2 separate regions of the Homo sapiens genome follow, and region 1 is linked to region 2. The links come from fine-mapping of genetic effects on gene expression. A gene starts in region 2. The other region holds a variant in brackets. All regions are shown on one strand. Distances are between the middles of the regions.

Region 1 (2,919 bases), 920 kb after region 2:
ACTCACACTGTTAAATAATTAATCCACTGATTTCTAGACAAGTCTTTATGAAGCACCTACTAAAGGTAAGGCACTCTGCTCAGAGGTAAGGATGTATTAATGAACCAAACAGGCCTGGTTCCTCCCTTCATGGAGTATACAGTCCAGTGGGGAGCATAGACACTCATCAGATTATCAAGCAAGTGCATGTAGAATCATCACATGGAATCCAAACGCGCGATAAGAAGTATATGGTTCTATATAAGCACAAAAGTGTGGGATAGGATTTGGTCAAGAAAGTGAGAAAGGTGCTAATTATGTTAAAATCATAAACAGTGGGTAGATATGAGTAGGAGCATCTAGGAAAAAAGGAGAAAACAGCACATTCCCAGCAAAATAACCAGTACTGTGGATTGACTCGTGTCCTCCCAAAATATATATTCAAGTCCTAACCCCTAGTACCATGTGATCATACTTGGAAATAAGATCATTGCAGATGTAATTAGTTAAGATGAAGTCATACTGGAGTAGGATGAGCCCTTATTCCAATATGACTAGTGTCCTTATATGTAGAGGAGAAGACACAGATGGGGAAGGTTGCCTTATGAAGACTGAGCCAGAGACTGGAATTATGCTACCACAAGCCAAGGAACACCTGGGCTGCCACAGATCAGAAGAGACAAGGAAAGATCCTTTCCCAAAGACCCAGAGTATAGCCCTGCCATCACCTTGACTTTGGATTTCTAGCCTTTAATTCTGTGAGACGACACATTTGTATCATGTTAAGCCACCTAGTCTGTGGTTCTTTGTTACAACAGCCCTAGGAAACTAATACAACCAGCATCAGTAAAAGCGCCGTGGCAATAAAAAACATTTCAAATAGAAAGAACCAGAAGAAATCCAGGATAGCTGGACACTGTGTGGTAGCAGTAGGGTTGCTGGATAAAATACAAGATGGCTAGTTATATTTTAATTTCAGAAAACAACAAATACCCTTAGCATGTGAGTCCCATATTACATCTAGAAATCTGACAAAAATATTTGCTTATCTGAAATTTAAATTTAACTGGGCATTCTGTATTTTTATATGCAAAATCTTGCCACCCCAGAAAGAGGATACATGGTGAAAGTTGATGGCAAATAGGTATAGAGAAATGTCTATGCCTCTTTAGATTGTTAGATTGAAGTGGATTAAATTTGTGGGAAGTGAGAGAATGGTGACAGCAGGTATAGGCAAGCTTGCAGAAATTTAGCTGTGAAAGGTCTAAGGAGCTGAGGATAGGAATAGGAGAA[T/C]GAAGAGTTGAATGAGGCTGTTTTTGTTTTTTGAGTGGAAGAGGCACATGCATGGTTAAGAGCCAGATGACAGAATCTACCTGAGAATTTGATTATATAAAAGGCAATAAAGAAGGGATGTTAAATATTTATAGCTCATAGAAAAGTGATAAATGATGGGATACATACAAATGATGGTTTTAGATAGAAGAAGAGGCATGTCTTCCACTGCAACAAGAAGGCAGGAGGGCAGCAATGGTTCACTGTGGATTGTTTTGAGTATTTAATATTAGGGAAATATTTAATATTTGGGATTCTCATCAGATAATCACATACTCTCTGTTTCCCATATTCTGGGAAATTCTTAACTATGATTTAATGAATAATCCTGGATGAGGTTACATGACACGGTTTGGCTGTATCCCCAACCAATTCTCATCTTGAATTCCCACATGTTGTGGAGGGACCTGGTGGGAGTTAATTGAATCATGGCAGCAGATCTTTCCTGTGCTGTTCTCATGATAGCTGTTCTCATGAGATCTGATAGTATTGTAAGGGGGAGTTTCTCTGTACAAGCTCTCTCGCTCTCTCACTTTTTATTTTTTGCCTGCTGCCATCCATGTAAGATGTGACTTGTTCCTCCTTGCCTTCTGCCTTGACTGTGAGGCCTCCCCAGCCATGTGGAACTGTAAGTTCAATAAAACCTTTTATTTGTAAATTTCCCAGTTTCAAGTATGTCTTTATCAGCAGCGGGAAAACGGACTAATACAGTACAGCCATCCATAAAACACATTTAAGGTATACTTATAGAAGTTTTGTTATGGAATTCATACAAGTGTAAGTTTGAGTTAAAAATATTTTAATGAAATCCTGGAGACAGATTTATATTCTAAAGGCTGAGAACCCTTTAAACTAACAGGCAAGTTCATATGCTAAATACCAGAAGGAACAAAACTGTTTCAGAGGTTTGAAGGGAGAGGAGGTGTAACTAGTTATTGTGAATTGGATTGAGCAACCCAAAAGGATGTCAAGCAGTGTGAGTGGCCCACTTGAGTTTTAATCTCAACAATTTCACAATAATATAATTGCTACTTTTGTTTAATGAGAAAAATTTACATGAGGGCCATGGAGGAGGAAATAATTAGTGTAGGGTAGAAGTGAGGAGAGTCCAGACAGGTGTAAAAGAGAAAAAGCAATGGGGCTGATCTGGCCATGAGGAATGAGTAGGATTTTTCTGGTATAGAGAAGGTGGGAATGGAAATATCTTGCCAAGTGTACTGGAAAATGGAAGCAGGAAGAAAAAAAGGTCTATTATTTAGTTCTCCTTGTGTCTGTAATAAGCTTAAATTCTTAATTTAGGGGAGCAGAGAAGAGATAATAAAAGTTGCATCAATTTGGAGGAGGGACAAATCACTGAAGGCTGAGATAGTTGAAAAGGCTTCAGAGAAGACAAGTTGGACCTGAAAGGAAGAAAGGCAAAGCCGTCCTAAGTGGAGCTGTGGTGGAAGTGTGGCAGATGAAAAGACATGGTGCTTGGAAGGCCTGGTTTTTGTTCCCAGACTTCTTTTTAGATGCCTCAATTTTTTTTTAAATTAGATTTACATGTTTACACATTTTCTATATTCATCTTATCATCCTATTTATGTAGGTATTTGTGATTCCTAATCT
Region 2 (2,852 bases):
GATATGAACGAAATAGAGACATTGGTAGATACTCTTTCTCTTTATTTCTTTCAGAATAGAACAAATTAGTCCCGCAGCTACTGGCGATTGGCTGAATTTTTTTTTTTTTTGAGACGGGATCTCACTCTGTCACCCAGGCTGGAGTGCAGTGGCGGATCTCGGCTCCCTGCAACCTCCGTCTCTCAGGTTCAAGCGATTCTTCTGCCTCAGCCTCCTGAGTAGCTGGGACTACAGGCACGTGCCACCAACGCTCGGCTAATTTTTGTATTTGTTCTTTTTTAGTAAAGACGGGGTTTCGCCATGTTGGCCAGATTGGTCCCGAACTCCTGACCTCAGGGGATCCACCCGCCTCGGCCTCCCAAAGTGCTGGGATTACAGGCGTGAGCCACTGCGCCCGGCCTTGGCTGAGTTTTTATTAGATCTGAGCCGTTCAATTTCAATAGTTTAGGATCCAACCTCACTCTCAGGCAAAGAATAGAGGAAATGATACCAACGTATTTATCTGTCAATAAACACTTGGTGATTTGAATATGGTTAAGGGATTCCTGTAGTTTGCCCCCCTTAAAACTGAACTTTGTCCAAACCTGTTCTAAATATGTGTGTGCGTGTGCATGCATCTGGGTGTTGGGGAGGAGCGGTCGTAAAGTTCCTTTTAAATTTCACCTATGGGGGACTACTTCCCACCTCATCCTATGAAGTCAACATTAGCCTAAATACCAAAGCCAGATTAAGACACTACAAGAAAACTACGAAACAATATCTCTCACGAACACAGATGCAGAACTTCTAGACAAAACGTTTCCAAATTGAAGCGAAGACCATATTAAAAGGACAAAAGCACCTCAGTGGTTGCTTGGGGACTGGGGGAGGGGCTGGATTACTATCTTGGCTGTGGTGTCGAAAACCTATCAAATTGTTCACTTTAAATATGTGCAGTTTATTGTATCCCAACCATTCCTCAACAAAGCTGTTTTTCAGAAACATTTGTCCATGTAGTTTTGCCTTTGAATGGTTGGGTCAATGAAGAGAAAAACGAGTGAAAACAGGGAATCATGACACTTTGTTTTTTTACGTGTAAATATTCGCAAAACGCCCAAACTGGTAACTTTGGGAACACGGGTTCACGCAGAAGAAGGGCTGCTGTCTGGGGAGGACTGAAACTCGGGTTCCCGAAGTCGGGCTGCTCTGGGGCCACGGAGAGAAGGGGAGAGAACGTCGAGGAAGAGGCAGAGCTCAAGTGGACGGAGGATGGAACACAGAGCGCGGCCGGGACAAAGGGGCAGGCCAGACAGCCGTGACAGAGAAACTAGGCGGTCCGCTCCTGGGACGCGGTCTCGGGGGCGGGTTCGCCCCTGAGGCCCGGTGACCCTTCGCCCGCAACCAGGGCTAGCGCTTGTGTGCGCCCACGGAAGCACCCGAGCGACCGGAGAAAGAAAAAGTGGTCAAGGGGACCTCCTTCCAGCTCTACGCGCCTCTCATTCAGAGAGGTGAGGTCAGGAAAGGGGAAGGACGAAGCCCCAGAGCAACAGAAGTCAGGCGGTGCCAGGAACACTGAGAGCGGAGCCAGGGGAAGGCGGCCGAGCGCGGCCCCCTCTCCTCCCGGGCCGGGGCGGGCCCGAGGCCTCGATCCGCCTTCCCCGCGCCGTCCTGGTCACGGCCCCGCGGGGCAGCCATGCCTGGCCGTCTGCTGCGGGGCCTGTGGCAGCGATGGCGCCGTTACAAGTACCGCTTCGTTCCCTGGATCGCACTGAACCTAAGCCACAACCCGAGGTGAGAGGGCGGGACGGCAGAACGAGGGGCACCTGCCTTCGGTTCCCAGACGCCACCACGGCGGCGGGACGCAAAGCGGAGAGCCTGAGGCTGACTGCCGGCCTGAGATGGGCGGGCCCGGGTGGGCAGGGACTGAGGTGGGCGGGCCGGGTGGGCGGGGACTGAGGCCTCGGAGGGGTTTAAGGAACGCGGGCCAGAGGCGGGCGGGGCCGAGGTTGGTGGAGTCCGAGGCCCGCTGGAAGCCTGAAGTGGGCGGTGGCTTCAGGTGGGCGGGGCCTATGGCCTCTTTCCCAGTGTCCGCTGCGCTGCCGGGCCCGCGAGGCCGAGCTCGCCAGCCGGATGTGTCGCCTGTTCTTCCCTGTTGCGTTCGGCACTGACTGGGGAGCTTGTATCTGGGCAAAAATGGAAACTTTTTAAAAAGACTGCCCTTACCGCGTGAGAGTGCGTGGCTTTTTCTCCACCAGGGGTTAATTAGGTGCTTGAACTTCCTCAGAAAAGCCAAGCCAGGGTTTATTTTCATAGTTCATACAAGTACTTCACGTGGTTAAAGAAGCCCATCCCGGCTGTGAGAATAGCGTGCAGTAGCTCGCGCGTTAAGAACGGGCAGAACGCCACTCAAAAGCACGTCGGGATGGTGGGTTTCGGATTGGGGTGAGTCCCGCCGGCGTTATTAAGGGCGCACCAGTGATCAGCTCAACACCGTGCTCACCAAAGAGGCCGACCGGGCCTCCCTGAAGTCAGTGTCCGACAAATAGGGAAACAAAGCGGTTTCCGGAAGGTTGCATGCTAGGGAAACAGGAGATCAGTTGTATCATGACTCGGAACCGTGAGGCGGGAATTACAACCTTTTTGTTCAAGTAAAAATAATGCAGTTAGTACAAAAAGATAATGATTATGGAAATAAGAGGTGCAGTCATTGAAGACGTTAGTCGTCCTGGAGGGAGTGTCACAAAGTATACGATGTTGAATTTGTCTTTGAAACTACAAGGCCATTTTTAAAAAGCCATTGAATGTGAGGTCATTCATTCTCATTGTGATGACATTCAGCTTGGCTGTTGGGTGTAGTACGGGAAAGAGCTGAA

The links. PIP is the estimated chance that this variant, and not a neighbour inherited with it, causes the effect. A credible set is the group of variants that fine-mapping cannot tell apart.
Region 1: its variant is the best candidate, but not a certain one, in a credible set for the expression of SETD9 in NK cells (Gilchrist 2021, PIP 0.89).

What each region holds. Positions count from the first base shown.
Region 1 is chr5:57,829,062-57,831,980 of GRCh38, forward strand. No RefSeq gene overlaps it. Among named protein-coding and RNA genes, the nearest start is that of LINC02225, 69 kb to the right of the region's middle. The variant T/C (reference allele first, on the strand shown) is at 1,273.
Region 2 is chr5:56,907,974-56,910,825 of GRCh38, forward strand. It overlaps SETD9 (SET domain containing 9), which reads left to right and starts at 1,623. Exons shown (of 6, transcript NM_153706.4): 1 at 1,623-1,770. The coding sequence starts at 1,673. RefSeq lists enhancers at 1,259-1,348, 2,139-2,188, 2,284-2,852 and silencers at 1,499-1,708, 1,889-2,098.